3 linked regions of the Homo sapiens genome follow. The protein of the gene in region 1 interacts with the protein of each later gene in a biochemical or structural test. Each region holds a gene or a part of one and is shown in the gene's direction. Other genes may lie near its edges.

The links.
Region 2: the proteins of NR4A2 (region 1) and BAZ1B form a complex in vitro, tested with the Homo sapiens proteins (one study listed by BioGRID).
Region 3: the proteins of NR4A2 (region 1) and TCEAL5 form a complex in vitro, tested with the Homo sapiens proteins (one study listed by BioGRID).

What each region holds. Positions count from the first base shown.
Region 1 is NC_000002.12:156,323,888-156,329,784, reverse strand, and holds the end of NR4A2 (nuclear receptor subfamily 4 group A member 2), read left to right. Parts: coding exon 1-462; intron 463-1,251; coding exon 1,252-1,381; intron 1,382-1,770; coding exon 1,771-1,934; intron 1,935-2,864; coding exon 2,865-3,067; intron 3,068-3,456; coding exon 3,457-3,635; exon of another isoform or gene 3,636-3,638; intron 3,639-3,784; coding exon 3,785-4,041; 3' UTR 4,042-5,348; downstream 5,349-5,897. UniProt on the Homo sapiens protein: Transcriptional regulator which is important for the differentiation and maintenance of meso-diencephalic dopaminergic (mdDA) neurons during development.
Region 2 is NC_000007.14:73,442,244-73,449,355, reverse strand, and holds part of BAZ1B (tyrosine-protein kinase BAZ1B), read left to right. Parts: intron 1-1,976; coding exon 1,977-2,092; intron 2,093-5,226; coding exon 5,227-5,372; intron 5,373-6,527; coding exon 6,528-6,631; intron 6,632-6,802; coding exon 6,803-7,112. UniProt on the Homo sapiens protein: Atypical tyrosine-protein kinase that plays a central role in chromatin remodeling and acts as a transcription regulator. Involved in DNA damage response by phosphorylating 'Tyr-142' of histone H2AX (H2AXY142ph).
Region 3 is NC_000023.11:103,273,737-103,281,371, reverse strand, and holds the start of TCEAL5 (transcription elongation factor A protein-like 5), read left to right. Parts: upstream 1-4,621; 5' UTR 4,622-4,699; intron 4,700-6,029; 5' UTR 6,030-6,097; intron 6,098-6,781; 5' UTR 6,782-6,808; coding exon 6,809-7,429; 3' UTR 7,430-7,635. UniProt on the Homo sapiens protein: May be involved in transcriptional regulation.

The sequences.
Region 1 (5,897 bases):
TTCCAGGTGCAGCACAGCCCCATGTGGGACGACCCGGGATCTCTCCACAACTTCCACCAGAACTACGTGGCCACTACGCACATGATCGAGCAGAGGAAAACGCCAGTCTCCCGCCTCTCCCTCTTCTCCTTTAAGCAATCGCCCCCTGGCACCCCGGTGTCTAGTTGCCAGATGCGCTTCGACGGGCCCCTGCACGTCCCCATGAACCCGGAGCCCGCCGGCAGCCACCACGTGGTGGACGGGCAGACCTTCGCTGTGCCCAACCCCATTCGCAAGCCCGCGTCCATGGGCTTCCCGGGCCTGCAGATCGGCCACGCGTCTCAGCTGCTCGACACGCAGGTGCCCTCACCGCCGTCGCGGGGCTCCCCCTCCAACGAGGGGCTGTGCGCTGTGTGTGGGGACAACGCGGCCTGCCAACACTACGGCGTGCGCACCTGTGAGGGCTGCAAAGGCTTCTTTAAGGTGAGCAATGGCGGGAGCGGAGTAGGCAGGTAGGGAGCCCCTAGTGCCCGGGACCTCGGAGTGTGCCCTCTGCCTTGGTGCCAGTAGCCCAGCCCCAGCTCTCCCGGGACTGCCCAGCTCTCCGGGGTCCGCCGAAGCTGCCCTGCAGGAGACCATGGGCTGCGGCGGGGACTTCCGGGTGTCTGAGAAAGGGAAGCAGAAAGACTGGGAGGCCAGGGTCGCATCCCCCTCGCATTCAGCCGACCCGGCTGGCCCCCGCCCGAAGTTGCTGGAGCCGGAGTTGGAAGAGGGTCATTTGCATGTGCTAGGAGCTGTCTTCCCTGTTCAGAATGAAATTGGTTAGGACAGAGAACCGTGTCTGAGCTAACCAAGTGGAACAGAATTCCCTATGGTCAAATTAAGTGATCTCTTTATTTCGCCATCCTGATTGAATAATCTTATCATTTTAAATAGAGAAGGTCTCCAAGGAATGTAAATAATATGAATGCCCACGGATTTGTATTTACTGAGCGTCTCCTTCTCCTTCTCTTGGCATATAAAACACAGCAAGGAGCGGCAAGGTTAGCTCAAATGTTAACGCTATCAATTTTCTTCTGTTAAATGCCCTGGGGGAGGAAAAAAGAAAAGAAAGAAAGAAAAGGAAGAGAAAAAAATAAAATGGAATTGTGTGTATGTGTTTGTTTGTGGGGAGGAATCGTAGACCCCAGTCACATAACAGAAATTTTCTCCGAGTTGCCTGATTTTCAAAAGAAGAAAAAAAATGTTGGTCTATATTGTCTCCTTTTGCAGCGCACAGTGCAAAAAAATGCAAAATACGTGTGTTTAGCAAATAAAAACTGCCCAGTGGACAAGCGTCGCCGGAATCGCTGTCAGTACTGCCGATTTCAGAAGTGCCTGGCTGTTGGGATGGTCAAAGAAGGTAGGCTGAGGGGAGCTGCCGACCCTCCAGTTTGCGCCTTTAGGAAACCACTGCTCATACTCCAGCATCACGTTCCACTTCCCGGTGCTGGGGATCTCCGACTCCCCCTCAGTATGGCCTCCAGGACCCTGCAGCTGCCTGCTTGCCCGGCCTTCCCTAGAGAAAGCCGCCAGGCCCTTCTCTCCTTTAACTATACGACCCATTTGGAGGAAGACATAAAATAACCCCGCATTTTTTAATGCTTCTAGTCAGTGAAGGCTTTACAAGCACTGGGGCCCTCAGCCGCTCAGCCTGGTGCCCCGCGGCTGCGGCCTTCCCCGGGGAGGGACCGAGGCAGCAGCTGGGCCTGGGCTCGGAAAAGCGGCGCTAACAGGGCTCTTCCTTTGCAGTGGTTCGCACAGACAGTTTAAAAGGCCGGAGAGGTCGTTTGCCCTCGAAACCGAAGAGCCCACAGGAGCCCTCTCCCCCTTCGCCCCCGGTGAGTCTGATCAGTGCCCTCGTCAGGGCCCATGTCGACTCCAACCCGGCTATGACCAGCCTGGACTATTCCAGGGTAAGAAGCTGGCGGGGGGGATATCATGTGGACAAACCGACAGATGGGCAGGACCCCTCCCCACATCCGTCATTAACTCTCAGATTCAACGGGGGTAAAGAAGGCAAGCAAGGCTGTATATGCCTCGCAGCTCTGGCCAGGGCCTCAAGATTCAGATCTTCAGACAATCCATGTAGCTGGGGGCATAGACATGAGGACAGGATGGAGGAAGGAGGAGAGGGACACGCCACAGGGTTTGAAGCTGTGTGAATTCCCACTACCCCACTACCCCATCGCCCCTCCTCTTCCATATACACCAGTGCCTCTACCATGAAATCCAGGGGCTGTGCAAACTCTCCCCCTTCCCAATCTACTTTATTCCCAGTCCTCCATAGAGATAGATGCTTTAATCCTCATCCTTCCTGGCACTGTGCTGGGGAAGGATGTGGGGGCCTGTCTGGGGGTCAGGGAAGGGAAGGAGAGGGTGTAAAGAATGCCAGTGGGGTGGGGGATCAAGTGGTCAGATCCTTTTTACTCCAGCTGTGAAAAATATGCGGGCTTTAATTGGAGGAAGTATGTTGAGCAAACCTGGTAGGGACTGCAATTTTATTAAGATTTGCAAAAGGGCGTCTCAGCTCGAGGCCCACTCTGGGACTAGCATGAATACTAACATGTCAATTGTTTTGTGGAGATAAGAGTGAACGTTTCCCAGGGCTGGATGGCACTGTATTTAGTCTGTATGGAAATGGCAATTTACATATTTAAAGCAGCGACCTCGTAGCACCATCCCTAATTGAATTAATTGCCCCGGAACATCTAATTTCCTTACTGGTCAGAGAGAGGTTTAATTGTTATAAAAACCTGGCTCCCCTATTAGAAACGGGGTTAGCAATTTCACGGGTTATATATTTTAGAGAACCTCATTAAGTGCTTTTTAAAATGAAATTCCAGTTCCAGGCGAACCCTGACTATCAAATGAGTGGAGATGACACCCAGCATATCCAGCAATTCTATGATCTCCTGACTGGCTCCATGGAGATCATCCGGGGCTGGGCAGAGAAGATCCCTGGCTTCGCAGACCTGCCCAAAGCCGACCAAGACCTGCTTTTTGAATCAGCTTTCTTAGAACTGTTTGTCCTTCGATTAGCATACAGGTAATAAGGGAGGGAGGGAGACAATCCAGGGAGGCTGTGAGAGAAATCAAGAAAGGAAAAGAAAGGGAGGAAGGGAAACCAGAGGGTGGGGTAGAGAAAAAGACAGAATAGGAAATGGAAGTCGGAGAAAGGAAGAAAAAGAAAGAAAACAAAAAAAGACGAGAAGAAGCGAGCCCAGAAGCCTTGGATGAATGGAATGGAGGTGGGATAGGGGGCGTTCTTGATTGTTATGAAATTAAACCCTTTCAAGGTCCACTGGTCTACATTTTATTAACTCTTCAGTAATTAGGTGACTCTTAAATCCCTCATTTATTGCTCTTCAAGTAATTAGTTGTTTAGCTTTTCTCTCTCTCTTTTTCTCCCCTCTCTCTCTTTGGTATTAATTGCAGGTCCAACCCAGTGGAGGGTAAACTCATCTTTTGCAATGGGGTGGTCTTGCACAGGTTGCAATGCGTTCGTGGCTTTGGGGAATGGATTGATTCCATTGTTGAATTCTCCTCCAACTTGCAGAATATGAACATCGACATTTCTGCCTTCTCCTGCATTGCTGCCCTGGCTATGGTCACAGGTCAGTACTGCAGGCGCAGGGCGCTTCCCCTCCAGAACTGCCTAGCAGGATTTGTCCTGAGTTTCCCTTGTCACAGATTCTCCTTGGTTTTGCCAACTAGCTAACTGTCTTGTACATTCTTCTTTTGTTTCTGATTATGTTTTCTGCAGAGAGACACGGGCTCAAGGAACCCAAGAGAGTGGAAGAACTGCAAAACAAGATTGTAAATTGTCTCAAAGACCACGTGACTTTCAACAATGGGGGGTTGAACCGCCCCAATTATTTGTCCAAACTGTTGGGGAAGCTCCCAGAACTTCGTACCCTTTGCACACAGGGGCTACAGCGCATTTTCTACCTGAAATTGGAAGACTTGGTGCCACCGCCAGCAATAATTGACAAACTTTTCCTGGACACTTTACCTTTCTAAGACCTCCTCCCAAGCACTTCAAAGGAACTGGAATGATAATGGAAACTGTCAAGAGGGGGCAAGTCACATGGGCAGAGATAGCCGTGTGAGCAGTCTCAGCTCAAGCTGCCCCCCATTTCTGTAACCCTCCTAGCCCCCTTGATCCCTAAAGAAAACAAACAAACAAACAAAAACTGTTGCTATTTCCTAACCTGCAGGCAGAACCTGAAAGGGCATTTTGGCTCCGGGGCATCCTGGATTTAGAACATGGACTACACACAATACAGTGGTATAAACTTTTTATTCTCAGTTTAAAAATCAGTTTGTTGTTCAGAAGAAAGATTGCTATAATGTATAATGGGAAATGTTTGGCCATGCTTGGTTGTTGCAGTTCAGACAAATGTAACACACACACACATACACACACACACACACACACAGAGACACATCTTAAGGGGACCCACAAGTATTGCCCTTTAACAAGACTTCAAAGTTTTCTGCTGTAAAGAAAGCTGTAATATATAGTAAAACTAAATGTTGCGTGGGTGGCATGAGTTGAAGAAGGCAAAGGCTTGTAAATTTACCCAATGCAGTTTGGCTTTTTAAATTATTTTGTGCCTATTTATGAATAAATATTACAAATTCTAAAAGATAAGTGTGTTTGCAAAAAAAAAGAAAATAAATACATAAAAAAGGGACAAGCATGTTGATTCTAGGTTGAAAATGTTATAGGCACTTGCTACTTCAGTAATGTCTATATTATATAAATAGTATTTCAGACACTATGTAGTCTGTTAGATTTTATAAAGATTGGTAGTTATCTGAGCTTAAACATTTTCTCAATTGTAAAATAGGTGGGCACAAGTATTACACATCAGAAAATCCTGACAAAAGGGACACATAGTGTTTGTAACACCGTCCAACATTCCTTGTTTGTAAGTGTTGTATGTACCGTTGATGTTGATAAAAAGAAAGTTTATATCTTGATTATTTTGTTGTCTAAAGCTAAACAAAACTTGCATGCAGCAGCTTTTGACTGTTTCCAGAGTGCTTATAATATACATAACTCCCTGGAAATAACTGAGCACTTTGAATTTTTTTTATGTCTAAAATTGTCAGTTAATTTATTATTTTGTTTGAGTAAGAATTTTAATATTGCCATATTCTGTAGTATTTTTCTTTGTATATTTCTAGTATGGCACATGATATGAGTCACTGCCTTTTTTTCTATGGTGTATGACAGTTAGAGATGCTGATTTTTTTTCTGATAAATTCTTTCTTTGAGAAAGACAATTTTAATGTTTACAACAATAAACCATGTAAATGAACAGAATTTTGTCTTCTTTTTGGGTCAGAAAAAATAATGACTAAACAGCAACATAACATACACAGTTGGAGATTAATTTGGGATAGGTCACTTATTCAATATCTGAATTTTAAACAGCCTAAATCTATTCTGGCAAAAGAAATCAGGTGAACCAGAATAATTATGCAGATAATTCAGTAAAATATTTTTTCTTAACCAGAATTTTCCAGTCTGGTGACCAATATTTATTAGGATCAATTTAGAATATCTCAATTCTTCTGTTAACTTTGCAAGTAAGTGTAGCTTTCAGGAGAGAAGTTCTGGAGACCCAAAAGCTTTTGAACTTGAGCAAGGTCAGAGTCTAGTCAAGTACTTGTCTTGCACAGTGATTAGGAAGTATCTTTTTAAGACTCAAGAAGTCAACATGGATTTGAGGAGTGTTGTATGTAATCTCCGATTTTCCAATTTCTCAATTTACAACTGTTGGGTCATGGAGAAAGGGCAAAGCAGTTCAGGCCCTTTGGGCCTTGGGTCACTTTGGCACAGAGCAGAACTCAGTAGAGGTAGTTCT
Region 2 (7,112 bases), on another chromosome or scaffold:
GACATTTCTAGTTTTCACTGCCAGCCACATTCTCTGTCTTCTTGATCATACCTTCTTCTCAAGTAATGAAATCTCTCTCTCTGCCTTTAGCCTCCTGTTGCCCACTTCCTGTGTCTTCATGATTACTTCTGCTATCACCCACTGCTAAAAATCTCACACTCATTACCTTCCTTACCGATACATAATGTTTTCTTCCCTATCATGAGTAGAACTTGGGTGTCAACTTGGAAATGAACATCTCTCCCTCATCCTACAAACCCATTAATTTGCCATGATATCAATCCAATGCCCAGATGTTTGATGATCCAGTTTCTTGCTCTCCATTCTCCGTGGTCTCCGCTATCATTTGTCCCTTCTACATCTGTCACCTGGGCTCCTTTGGTGGCTTCTCAACTCCTCTTTCTTATATCACGTCTTCTCCCCTCTTATCCACCCAACTATTGCAACACCAGAATGCTGTACACAAAGCAAAGATCTGCTCACATTCCTGATCACAAACTTCTAGTCTTCCCATTGCCTCTAGAATAACATCCCAATTCCTGGCCTCACTTCTGAGACTCTTACACAATACCAGCTTGGGTTTTTATTAGCTTTAGATCCCATATTTGTGTACTTGTTACAGACCGTTTGTTGTTCATCCTTGCCTCTTGTGCCTTTCTCCCAGCTGGGAACATTCTCTGCCCAGAATTCCCAGTGGGTAAACTGCCCATGGCTTCGCTAAAATTTCACTGCGCTTTTGAAAAGTGCTTGCATCCTTAGGCTTCATGGTTTCTCCTCTGTGTTCAGCTGAACCTCCATTCTCTGAAGTAGTATTTTGGTGCATGGATCTTGTCTCTGGTTTTATACATGTCTGTCTCCCATGAGATTATGAATGCCCTGAGAGTAGAGGTGGTGCTTTGTTTTTTTACTTGAATCTCAATAAGGCCAAATACCGGGCCTTGTAAAGAGGAGACACCTTGTACTTGCCAAGATAATACTGTTGTTTTCCACACTGAAATTTGGGGTTGTAAAATGTGCAGCTTATAGGTACTCTGGCTTGGGCTTCTTTTTTGAGACGGAGTTTCGCTCTTGTTGCCCAGGCTGGAGTACGATGGCGCGATCTCGGCTCACTGTAACTTCCACCTCCCAGGTTCAAGCGATTCTGCTGCCTCAGCCTCCCGAGTAGCTAGGACTACAAGCATGCGCCACCACACCCAGCTCATTTTGTATTTTTAGTAGAGATGGGGTTTCTCCATGTTGGTCAGGCTAGTCTCGAACTCCCGACCTTAGGTGATCCGCCTGCCTCAGCCTCCCAAAGTGCTGGGATTACAGGCGTGAGCCACGGTGCCCGGCCTGGGCTTCCTTCTAAGGGGCAGAGCTGTTTGATCCTGACCCCACCTTAACAGTATTAGCAGGTTCTTTTGCACTCCATCCCAGCTGCACTTAGAGATGAGACATGTTGCTCTGAAATGGTGGGGCTTTGGACCAGCTGTTCCGAGCTGGGATTACCACTGCTTTGATATTATGGTCATCTGCAAGCTGTTTCAGCTCCTGGAAGGGGGCCATCAAGGTGAAGTCACACCTGTCTGGGCTCTGTTTATTCTTTTCAGTCTACCTCAGAGGTGGGGACAGCTTTTAGTAACTGATGTATTACATTATCTGGCTCTTTTTGTGAGACAAAAGAAACAGTGTTTTGTATTGCTTTGTGTGGGGAAGGGTAGGATTGCATTTTGGTCTTAATTTCTGTTGCCTTTGGTATCTTGTCCAAACTGTCTGTGGCCTGGCAGAAGGAGGCATGAGGCATGCTGTTGAAACTTGGTTTTTCATTTTTATGAAAAACTCTCCTGGCTTACATTCAGGTTCCCTCCCTGAATTATCATACGTTATACATATGTAGTCTGTGAAGAGAAGTTTCCTGATCCCTGTGGGATTTGAGCCCTTCTTAGGACCACTTTGGGCTAAAACTGTGTTCCCTACATTATTTTTTCTACCCACAGGAACTATACTGAAGAGTCTGCTTCTGAGGACAGTGAAGATGATGAGAGTGATGAAGAGGAGGAGGAGGAAGAAGAGGAGGAGGAGGAAGAAGATTATGAGGTGGCTGGTTTGCGATGTAAGTATTTTGTCTGCCTTTGTAGTTGATTTCACAGTCTTCTAAGCTTGGAACGCTTGGAAAGGCTGGCTTGGCAGTAGGTAGTGTGGCCGGCTTGCCCTATTCCTTTTCTCTTGTGTTGTGACTGTGGCGTAACTTAGCTGCCATGGGTTTAAATGGGTTTCCAAGATGGCGTTTAACTTCCTGCCTGGTGGGAGAGAAGGTGGCTTGATCTCAGTAACATCAACCCACTTGCTCTAAGATTTAGTAGAATTCATGGTCCCAAGTATATTTATGCCAAGGCTGCTGATTCTCAGCTCCTCGGCATATGGGGACAATGGGGAAGGAAGATCTTGGCCCATTGCCATCTCCTGACAGTTCTTTTGGCTGTTGTTTTATCGCTGCTTTCAGAGAGTGACTTTTTCTGTCTGGTTACAGTGATTTTCTCCTCCCTGCAGTGTGCAGGGTTATAGCTTTGCTGGTTTGAAAAGAGACGACTGATTATTTGAAGGCTTAGGTGGAAGGATGTTAGGAAGATTCAGATCTGTTCTCACTAGATGCCAGTAGGAAAAAAGGCATCATCTTTTGTGTTCACCGCATTGACTCTCATTCTCTCATGTTCATTTCTCATGAGTGTTGGAGAGTCTGGTGTTTGTGGCTAATGTCCTCCAGTCTAGCCTTTCTTTTAGCAGCCTCCCTCTTTCCAAAATACACTTTTTTTTTTTTTTTTTTTTTTTTGAGATGGTCTCACTGTCGCCTGGGCTGGAGTGCAGTGGTATGACCTCAGATTACCTCAGTCTCTGCCTCAGCCTCCCGAGTATACAGACACCCACCACCACACCTGGCTGATTTTTGTATTTTTAGTAGAGATGGAGTTTCACCATGTTGGCCAGGCTGGTCTCGAACTCCTGAGCTCAAGTGATCTGCCTGCCTTGGCCTCCCAAAGTGCTGGGATTACAGGCATAAGCCACTATGCCCGGCCAATACACTTTTCTTTACAGGTTCGTAGAAAACAGACCACAGATCAAAATTCTAATGAGCTTTTGAAGCAGTGGTACAGTTCCCAAGATCATAGCAGCTCTGAATGGTCATACTTGGTATAAGGAGTGAGAGAGAGGATGCCTGGCATGACTAGTCTCTTACTGTAGTGAGACTGCCAAAACCTAATGATTTGGGCTTGCCCGTCTTCTCCTGTCCTCCCACTTTCCCCCCCATACTTCAGAGGTGTGATGTGGGACACCTTAAGCTCTCACATACGTATGGGCTCTTTTTGTTTGTTCACTACGCCTGATTTTTCAGGTATCCTAGGGTAAGTGAACAAATGGCCCATCAGTCCTGCATTCAGGAATATCCTCTTCTGTTGGTCAGAGTCAGTGACTTGGGCACACCTTTGTTTGGGAACATATTTTTTTTGGCGGAGCGGGGGATGGGTATCTTTCTCTGTTGCCCAGGCTAGAGTGCACTGGTATGATCACTGCTCACTGTATCCTCGATCTCTCAGGCTTAAGCAATCCTCCTTACCTCAGCCTCCTGAGCAGCTGGGACTACAGGCACGTGCCACCATGCCCGGCTTTTTTGTAGAGATAGGGTCTTGCCATGTTTCCCAGGCTGGTCTTGAACTCTTGGGTTCAAGTGATCCTCCTGCCTTGGCCTCCCGAAGTGCTGGGATTACAAGTGTGAGCCACTGCGCCTGATCTCTCTGAGGGCAGATCCTGAATATGGTAGTATACTGATTCTGTTTATTTGTAAGCTAGTGATTGCTTTCCACTTCTACGTTGTAGCTCTCTTTCCAAGGAATTGCTTTTCTAAGTTTTTACGGCCTCGACTTGCCAAAAGGATCTGGGAAGTATTTGGTACTTCAGAGCTTTTTGTCAACTCTATCTTTCAGACCACCAAAGATGTGGTTCCCCAGTGCAGCTCAAGGTTCTAGCACCTAAGCATCAGATTCTTACCCTTTCTTACTAGCCTGGGCTTGAGCTAGAGACGCTAAAGTAGCCAAGAAAGGGTTATCGTGATCCAGAAATAGAATGGAAAGTAGTGTTTCTGGATTATTCGTGTCACTGCCTTCCTAGACCTCTGTGTCCAGTGTCATCTCCCCACTCCCCAAGGGAAGGTGGTGGAGAGCCTGGAGCTAAATCCTCATGGCATTGTTTCCCAGGGCTCACTGAGGAATGCCAGTTGGCTTGATGGTGAGCACCTGTTGTAAACCTGAGACACAAGTAGTCTCAGTGCCTTTGTGTGTGTGTGTGTGTGTGTTTTTTTTCTTTTGTGAGATGGAGTTACACCCTTGTTTCCCAGGCTGGAGTGCAGTGGCGTGATCTCGGCTCACTGCAACCTCCGCCTCCCAGGTTCAAGCGATTTTCCTGCCTCAGCCTCCTGAGTAGCTGGGATTACCAGCATGTGCCACCACGCCCTGCTAATTTTGTATTTTTAGTAGAGACGGGGTTTCACCATGTTGGTCAGGCTGGTCTTGAACTCCCGACCTCAGGTGATCCACCTGCCTCAGCCTCCTAAAGTGGTGGGATTACATGTGTGAGCCACAACGCCCGGCCTATATTCTTTATTCTCTCATTGGGGATCCTGGGCAGGGCTCTTATGGAGGGGACTAGCCCTAAATTGTATTTAATGAGGAGCCTTGTGGCCCTTCATGGAAGTACCAGCTTTTCTCTGGAAAGATTCTGATGGTAAGTGTAGAATAACTCTGGGAATTACAACATAGGGTTTGTTTTACAATCCAGTTCCATCTTACATGTAAATACATCCACTCGCTCAGGCTGAGCTTGGGCTGTGGGAAATCCAGGCTGACCTATTAGCAAATGGCTTCTCATGAGTGAGAGTTTACAGTTGATTCCTGCAGGGGCCTTATGGCTGGGAGTAACTGCAGGACGGGGCAGGACAGAAGTACTGAAGGACCTAGCCCTCTGAAGGGCTTTGGCAGTGGATGAAAGGCACCCATTCTTCATCGGCTGCCACTGCCTTTTAGTGTCCTGTTAGGTAAGGCAAGATAAAATAGCAAGAGCACCTTAAAACCAAAGGAGGCCACTGCTTTCCTTGTCCAGGAAAAGGATTCTCCCTGCATCCCTTTCCCCCATTTCGAAGATGCTCCTCCCTTCACCTTCCGTTGTTCTCTGCTGAATCCATAGTTTTTCTTTCAGTGAGACCTCGAAAGACCATCCGGGGCAAGCACAGCGTCATCCCCCCTGCAGCAAGGTCAGGCCGGCGCCCGGGTAAGAAGCCACACTCTACCAGGAGGTCTCAGCCCAAGGCACCACCTGTGGATGATGCTGAGGTGGATGAGCTGGTGAGAATTATTTATCATCCCTTCTCTAACCTTTCTGTTTCTTATTCCCTACCCCAGCAATTAGGAATTCATCAGGCAACAGGTGGGAGGGGAGCCTCCCCCCTCCTCCTTCTTACCAAACTTGGGAGGCTGGGGAGGCAGATGGGTGAGCCTGTACGCAGACAGAAGCAGCAAGGCCTCCAGGAACAGCTATGTCCGGCATTCCCCTGCTGTAGCCTGCAAACTAGTTAGCGGGCAGCCTGCAACTTATTAAGGATTTAAAAATAGTATCCATGTGTCTCCAGTGGGCTCAGAGGGGCTGGGTCTTCATTGTGGGAATGTCAGCAATGCTGGAGCCTCACTTACTGTTGAGTCGACAGTTGTTATGGGAGGGACATTACCCTCCCCTCTGCTCCTTAACCAATGTAATTTTAGTAGTTTTTAGATCTCACTTGAGCTTTAAAGAACAAAAAAGAAACTCTTGAAAAGGTGCTTGTTTTGACAGATCAAATTGGAGTTAGGGGCTTAAGGCAGGCCATTTGGGAGATCATAAGGCATTAGAAGATGCTCGGTTTGCCACAGCCTTGGGCTCTGTGGCCTCTGCTGTGAATCACAGCTTTTGTTATGGCTACCTGGAATGGAGGCCCCGCCCCTTTTCTCTTTAGCCACTTAACCCTCACATGTCTACGGTGGAAGAGCCCAGGAAGGGAATTGGACCTCTTGCTTTTCTTACCAGAGGCACCCCACCCCCACAGAATTGGCTGCTGTTGGCCCAGATAGCATGTTTTGCTTTCTGCAGTGGCTTGTTGATGCCCTTCCATGGTGTCACTGTAACCCCAGGTCCACCTGTTCTCTGAGAGCTAGTGTCCTGTTGACAGTAGCCCCCTTCAGCCGACCTCCAGCAGGACTGCTGGTAAAGGCGGCCCCCGCTGCCTGCTCTTTGCTGCTTTGATTGCCGTGGCCCCGGGGGAGGCGAGTGAGTGGACTACTGGGAAGATGCCTGCCACCTGGGCCGAGGGTGCTCCCTGACTTGAATATCAGAAGGTTTCAGCACCTCTGCGCCAAGGAAATAGTTGAACTCTCTTCCTTTTTTGAGCAGATACACTTATTTTCTGCCCTGTCCATTCTTCCTCCTGTCTTGAATCTGTAATAACATTGTTCTTTCTTTCCTGCCAGGTGCTTCAGACCAAGCGGAGCTCCCGGAGGCAAAGCCTGGAGCTGCAGAAGTGTGAAGAGATCCTCCACAAGATCGTGAAGTACCGCTTCAGCTGGCCCTTCAGGTGAGTGCTGTGTTCTCAGGTGCAGGGGAGAGGAGTGGCCTGGCTGGTTCTAAAAGCTTCCAGAGCCCCTGAGGGGCTCTCAGCCAAGCCCTTGCTTTTCAGGACGTGTCTCAGTGGCAGGGGCACTGCCGTCAAGGCTGTGCAGATTCTCCATTTGGTTCTTCTCCACAGGGAGCCTGTGACCAGAGATGAGGCCGAGGACTACTATGATGTGATCACGCACCCCATGGACTTTCAGACAGTGCAGAACAAATGTTCCTGTGGGAGCTACCGCTCTGTGCAGGAGTTTCTTACTGACATGAAGCAAGTGTTTACCAATGCTGAGGTTTACAACTGCCGTGGCAGCCATGTGCTAAGCTGCATGGTGAAGACAGAACAGTGTCTAGTGGCTCTGTTGCATAAACACCTTCCTGGCCACCCATATGTCCGCAGGAAGCGCAAGAAGTTTCCTGATAGGCTTGCTGAAGATGAAGGGGACAGT
Region 3 (7,635 bases), on another chromosome or scaffold:
GATGAATTGGACTTCTTCAAAATGAAAAACTTTTGTGCATAAAAGGACACTATTAAGAAAGTGAAAGAGAACCTATAGAATGGGAGGAAATATCTACAAACCATATATCAAATAAGGAACTAATATCCAGAATATATAAGAACTATTACAACTCAACAACAAAAAGCCAAACAACCTAATTAAAAAATGGGTAAGGATATGCAGAAGATTGAGACTGGATCCCTGCTTCCTTACAACATATACAAAAATCAACTCAAGATGGATTAAAGACTTAAATGTAAAACCCAAAACTATAAAAACCCTGGAAGACAACCTAGACAACACCATCCTGGACATAGAAATGGGCACAGGTGTCATGACAAAGACACCAAAAGCAATTGCATCAAGAGCAAAAATTGACAAACGAGATTTAATTAAACATAGGAGCTTGTGTATGGCAAAAGAAACTATCAACAGAATAAACAGACAACCTACAGAATGGGAGAAAATATTAGCAAACTATGCATCTGACAAAGGTCTAATATCGAGCAAGTATAAGGGACTTAAACAAATTTGCAAGAGGAAAAACAACCCCATTAAAAAGTGGGCAAAGGACATGAACAGACACTTCAAAAGAAGACATACATGCAAGCTCAATATCACTGTGGAAAGCAGTGTGTCGATTCCCGTAAGAGTTAAAAACAGAACTACCATTTGACCCAGCAATTCCATTACTGGGTATACACCCAGAGGAATGTAAATCATTCTACCATAAAGGCATATACACACGAATGTTCACTGCAGCACTATTCACAATAGCAAAGACATGGAATCAACCTAAATGTCCATCAATGACAGATTGGATAAAGAAAATATAGTACATATACATCACGGAATACTATGCAACCATAAAAAAAGAACAAGATCATGTATTTTGCAGGAATATGGATGGAGCTGGAGGCTATTATCCTCAGCAAACTAATGCAGGAACAGAAAACCAAATACCAGATGTTCTCACTTACAAGTGGGAGCTAAATGATGAGAACTCCTGAACACAAAGAAGGGAACAATAGATATTGGGACCTACTTGAGGGTGGAGGATGGGAGGAGGATGAGGATTAAAAAACTACATATTAGGTACTATGATTATTATTTGGCTGATGAAATAAAGTGTATACCAAGCCCCTGTGACATGCAATTTACCTATGAAACAAACCTGCACATGTGTCCCCAAACCTAACATAAAATTTAAAAAATAAAAAATAAAAATTGGCAAAGCACTTGAATAGATATTTCTCCAAAGGAAATATACGAATATCCAACAAACCCAAGAAAAGATACTCAACATCATGGGTCATTAAGAAAATGCAAATCAAAACCACTTCTCTCCCACTAGGATGATAAACATAAAAAATAGAAATTAACAATTGTTTGCAAGGATATGGTAAAATTGGAGTCTTGCTGATAGGAATGCAAAATGTTGCAGTTACTGTGGAACACAGTTTGGCGGTTTCTCAAAAATTTAAACATAGAATTACCATATGACCCAATGATTACACTCCTAGCTATATATGCAAGAGAAGTAAAGACATACACCCACACAAAAACTTATACATAATTGTTTATGGTAGCATTATTTATAACAGCCAAAAGGCAAAAACAATCCAAATATCTATCAACATACAAATGGATAAACAGAGTGTGGTATGCACATAAAATGAAATATTAATTCATAAAAAGGAATGAAGTATTGCACATGCTACAATGTAGATGAACCTTGAAAACATTATGCTAAGTGAAAGAAGCCAGACACAAAAGGTCACATATTGTACAATTCCATTTATGGGAAATATCTAGAATAGGTAAGTTCATAAAGATGGAAAGCAGATAAGTCATTGCTAGGGACTAGGGGGAAAAGGGAATTGAGAATGACTGCTTAATGGGTATGGGGTCTCTTTTCAGATTGATGAAACTGTTTTGGAACTAAATAGAGGGGATGGTTACACAATATTTTGAGTGTACTATACATGTCACTGAACTGTACACTTTAAAATGGTTAATTCTATGTTATGTGAATTTCTCTTTTAAATAGAGAATAAAGATAGCACGATTTGAAAAAAATGTATACAGAAGTATATTCTTTGGGTCAATGGCCTTCATCTTTTTAATATTACATACCCCTTTGAACATCTAATGAGAGCAACGGAACCTATTCTCAGCAAATGTGCACATACAATAAAAATGTATATATCCAGCCTGGGTGCGGCAGCTCATGCCTGTAATCCCAGTGCTTCGGGAGGCTGAGGCAGGGGGCTCACTTGAGGTCAAGAATTGGAGACCAACCTGGGCAATGTAGGGAGACACTGTCTGTACAAAAATTTAAAGAAATTAGCTGGGAGTTGTGGCGTGCACCAGTAGTCCCAGTTACTCAGAAGGCTGAGGTGAGAAGATCCCTTTAGCCCAGGAGTTGAAGGCTACAGTGAACTATAAATGCACCACTGGACTCTAGTCTGGACAACAGAGTGAAACCACGACCACACACACACACACACACACACACACACACACAAGTTTGAACATAATTTTAGGGGATTCATAGTTTAATAATGCCTGAACCCAAGGAATAGATGAGCTCTCTTTAACATGGCTCAGCTGCTATTTGTGTCTTCCCCTTCTTATCTCTTTGTCAAGTAGCTTCTTCTTTCTGTCCTTTATGGTTTCCTCTTTTTCATGATGTCAACTTGCTTATATAAAATAAAAACATACATCCACACAAAAACTTATACGTGATTGTATATGGCAGCATTATTTATAACAGCTAAAAGATGAAAATGCCTAAATATTCATCAACATATGATGGATAAACAGAATGGGGTGTGCAAATAGAACAAAACACTATTCAGGCTCCTAGGGTACAGATCTTCTTCTCACAAGAGTGTGCATACTCCACTACTTCCTAAACATATGCAATTTTACATGCCCTTTCAGGTGGCCCACAGACTTCATCAATTGGGAATACTTGGTCTAGGTCAATATGGACAGCATGGCAGAACTCCTTAGACACTGGCCTAAATTTGCTGAGACAGTCATAGGTTAGTATGGACTGGCAGGCAGCAATCCTGCAGCAAGGTTAGGCTCCCTCTGGGTTCCCTGAAGATACAGAGTTTGGGGGTGAGAGGCCCGCCAGACTGCACTTTTTAGGCTAGGCGGGAGGTAACAGACAGGGTCTAGGGAGGCTTCCACTCAGGCACTGTGAATAAGGGCAGAGAGCAGGCAGGTTGCAGGGGACTCTACCCCAGCAATCACTTCAGGCCTCATGAACACCCTCAGCTGCAAGGGTCTAGAAGAGATCTGTTCTAGTTTTCTAGAGGCATGAACAATGCTCCACTCTGTGCTGGGGCTGGGTTATCCCTGTGGGAATTAGGGGGAGGGAGGAGGGAAGGAGCCAAAGGCATTTACTCATATCACCACCTTGGTCACCTGTCCAGTTATATTCTTGGACAGATGACTCTTGAGCAACAGAGTCATGTGCCTGGGGATGAGAAATGCAGGGGATGAGAAATTCTAGAATATGAGGGGGTGGAGAAGAACACCTTCCCCTGATCTTGGCAGGGCAGGGAGGATAGGACCATTTCTGCATCCTTCACATCTCCTGCAGCCTTGGTCTCACAGCTCTTCCCTTCCCCTAGAGCTAAACATTTGAATGAAAATAGCCATGAGCCAAATTTTTTAAAGAGACATTTTTGAATTTTCTTTCAACCATCAGATTCCAGCAAGTCTATTTAGCACTCAGTAATCGTTTGGGAACATTAAATGTGTGTGTGTGTGTGTGTGTGTGTGTGTGTGTGTGTGTGTGTGTGTGTTAAATAGAACGTGAGAGAACCAGCTATTTATGAAAAATTTCTAATGTATATTTTGCTTGTTGCCAATTGAATTCCTTGTGTATATGGCAAAAGTTAATATTATGAACCTAATTTGGTCTCTCTTCTGAGTAGAAAATTTTGAAATCTTTTAAGTTTTTCTCTCTCTTAAACACTTTCTCATAAATGAAATAGCTTTATTTAATTTTGTGCTTATAAGAATAACCCATGCTGAGGAGAGTGAATTAAATAAGATCAAAAAAATTTAAAAAAATAAAACCCCTATTTTAACTACTTGTGTCCCTACTTGACAATCCACCTTGTACCCATTATGAGAAGGTCTGGTTCACAGGCAGAATGAACATCAGTGGCTGCGTGTAGAATTAGATCGAGTAGGTGCCTTCGGATAAAAGGAGAGAAAGAAAAAAAATTCCTCTGAGATGTACCAATGGCCAATAGCTCTAGAAGAAGGTGCGGTCCCTCCCTGATAACCACGGAAGAATAAATACATACTACACAGAGAAAGGGCCACATTTGACCTGTGGGATTAGCAAAGACCAAAATGAGTGACAGGGCCCCGTGCTGTGGGGCGAGAGAGAGAGCTAAGCCGGGGTTGGGGGTGCTGAGGGCGCTCAGACGGACAGACTAGTGAAGGGAAGAAGTGGGCTGGCTCCTGACGCACTTTCTGCGGGTGGGAGGGGAACTAGGGACCCGAGCCCACTGGTGACGTTTTTCTCACGTGATCTGAAGCCGACGTGTGCAGAAGTCCCTCTCCTCCAGGTACCAGATCCCTGTTTCCGTGGAGGAAGGCAGACTTCAGACTGAAGGACAGAGAAGGCAACTGCCCTACAGCCCTGCAGGTCGGTACAAGCCGGGGACCCCTGAGGTAGGGATGGTAATGCACATAGGCTACAGAGGATCGGATCTGCTTTCTAGATACCGCCCTGTTCCACCCCCATTCATTTTGGCGCAGAAATTTTTTTGTGTTGGGCAAGAGGTATGGGTACCAGCTTTTATTTCCCTGGAGAAGTGCAGGCTTCTGGCAGAAGGAAATGTGAGAAAGAGTCATTTCCCCGAGATGGCTACGAACCCATCCACAGCCTGTGGATCCCTGTGGTTGGGATGGCAGAGGGCAAAGACCAGAGCGGGTCCAGGACTGGATTCTCTCCACTCCTTTCCCGATGCTCACTCATTTGGTGCAAGAAATGGAGGGCTTGGTGCGGGGCGGGGAGGGGGGAGGGGGGCGGAACTCGAGAGAGGTCAAGGGTTGAGAATTGGGTACCAGTTGGGAACTCCTAGGAAGCCGGCGACCGGGTGATGTCTGATGGAGGAGGAGGAGGACCAGGGAAGAGAACAGCGACGAAACGGCGAGAAAACGGCCTGATCCCTGCAAGGCAGCGGGAGGCGGGCACAGTCAGTGACCCCAGGCTGCTGAGGGCGGACCCTGCAACGGGTCCAGGCCTGAGTTCCCTGTGTCTTTTCTCCAACCTCCCTCCATTTTGGAGCCGGAAACGGTGGGCTAAGGGGGTCAGGGGAAGGAGGTGCTGTAGAAAAAGGGAGACAGAGGTTTGATCTGGGGATCAGCTCCCTATCCAGGAGGAGTGGCTTCTGAAGTAGGAGGATTGAGATGAGGTAGCAGCAAGACCAAAAATGTTACCGGGTTTGGAAATAATTTGTCTCTTGCATTGCAGAAAAATGTGGGCTTTCTGTGTATGTGGGGAGGGAGGAGGTGGCAGGAGTGTTTTGGACATTTCTGCCCTGCCCCCTATCTCTGTCATCACCATTTTCAGAGAAGTGGTGGGCTCTGCTATTTGGCTACCCTAGGGTGAGGGATTTGGAATGTAGAGATCTGAGTGCATCAGAACACTCTGTCTTCAGAACATCCTTGTCTCTAACCCTACTCATTTTCGTGCCAGAAAAGTGAGATAAAAATTTGGGAGGAAGATTCAGAAACATAGAAACGCTTTGGAAATAATCTTTCTCGCCTATTTCCCACAAGTAGAACAATGGAGGCTCTTAAGAAAGAGCTGCGCGCGGAGGGGGAATCAGAGAATGCAAGGGAAAAGGCGAGGAGGTGATAGGAGCTCGGAAAGTTTTGACAAATACGGTCCCAAAGAACCAGTGTCCAAGTTACCAGTCATTCACTTTCTCAATTTCTCATTCACCCACCTGTTTCTTGTCTTTCTGCAGGTCTTCAAGTCTGTGGTTGTGGGCACTAACCCAGACAAGAAAAGGAAAGACCTGCAGTATCGGTGCAGGTCAGTGGGAGAGGGCTACTGCACCAGGACCCTTGGGAGTAGGAGTAACTTAAGCCAGAGCAGAAGTTGGGGAGGCCACTGCCTGCCACCCCTCCTCCAATCCTCCCTCTTGCAGTTTCGGGATACATGACTGCTGTCAAGACCCTAAGGGGATATGGTGATCTATGGCTGGTGAGGATAGAGGGGAGAATAAGAAAGTAAGAGAATGGAGGTGTAGCATCTGTGATGCCCCCTGAGGACATAAGGGTAGCCCTGAAATCTGAGAACTGGCTATGGTTCTGTTCTGTCTGCAGTTTTATAAGTCTTACAACTGCATGCAAGGGGAAAAAGAAGAAAACTGCCCAGGATTTCTGCAGGTCCGTGTAAATTGGAACTACCCAGTTAAAATTGGTATGGGTAGGCATAGCCAAGGCCAGAGCAAAGTTTAAGGGCCAATATGCTCCTACGCATTTCTCAGCACATCCTCCTTAAATGTAGGGAGAAGCACCTGTGGAAGTTTCTGTAAGGTTGGCTTGTGTGAACATGTGTAAAGTGAAAAGGAAAGGAAGGAATGTAAGGGTGGGAGTGCACCTGGAAGATGGGATAGGGCCAGGAAAACCCTAAGTTAAGAAAGACAAGTACTATAAGGACCTGTGTTCAACCCCCAAAGCCCTCAGTGTCCTGTGTCTTCTTTTTGTCTCCTAGGAAAGGCAAAGAAGGGAACATCTCAACATGGAAAAGCTCTACAAAGAAAATGAAGGAAAGCCAGAGAATGAAAGAAACCTAGAAAGTGAGGGAAAGCCAGAGGATGAGGGAAGTACAGAAGATGAAGGAAAGTCAGACGAGGAAGAAAAGCCGGACATGGAGGGGAAGACAGAATGCGAGGGAAAGCGAGAGGATGAGGGAGAGCCAGGTGATGAGGGACAACTGGAAGATGAGGGAAACCAGGAAAAGCAGGGCAAGTCTGAAGGTGAGGACAAGCCACAAAGTGAGGGCAAGCCAGCCTCCCAGGCCAAGCCAGAGAGCCAGCCGCGGGCCGCCGAAAAGCGCCCGGCTGAAGATTATGTGCCCCGGAAAGCAAAAAGAAAAACCGACAGGGGGACGGACGATTCCCCCAAGGACTCTCAGGAGGACTTACAAGAAAGGCATCTGAGCAGTGAGGAGATGATGAGAGAATGTGGAGATGTGTCAAGGGCTCAGGAGGAGCTAAGGAAAAAACAGAAAATGGGTGGTTTTCATTGGATGCAAAGAGATGTACAGGATCCATTCGCCCCAAGGGGCCAACGGGGTGTGAGGGGAGTGAGGGGCGGAGGTAGGGGCCAGAAAGACTTAGAAGATGTCCCATATGTTTAATGTCTTTGGCCTTTAATTCTGATTTCTCTGATGGGAATATTGCCAGTCCTGCTTTTCCTGGCAGGCATTTGCCGGCCTATGTGCTTTAACCTTAAGCTGATACTTTCCTTTAGGTGTCACTCTTGTTACCAGCAGACTTTTGACCCAACTACAGTGCTCTGTCTTTTAGTAGAGGATTTTCACCCATGTGCATGGAATAAATGTTC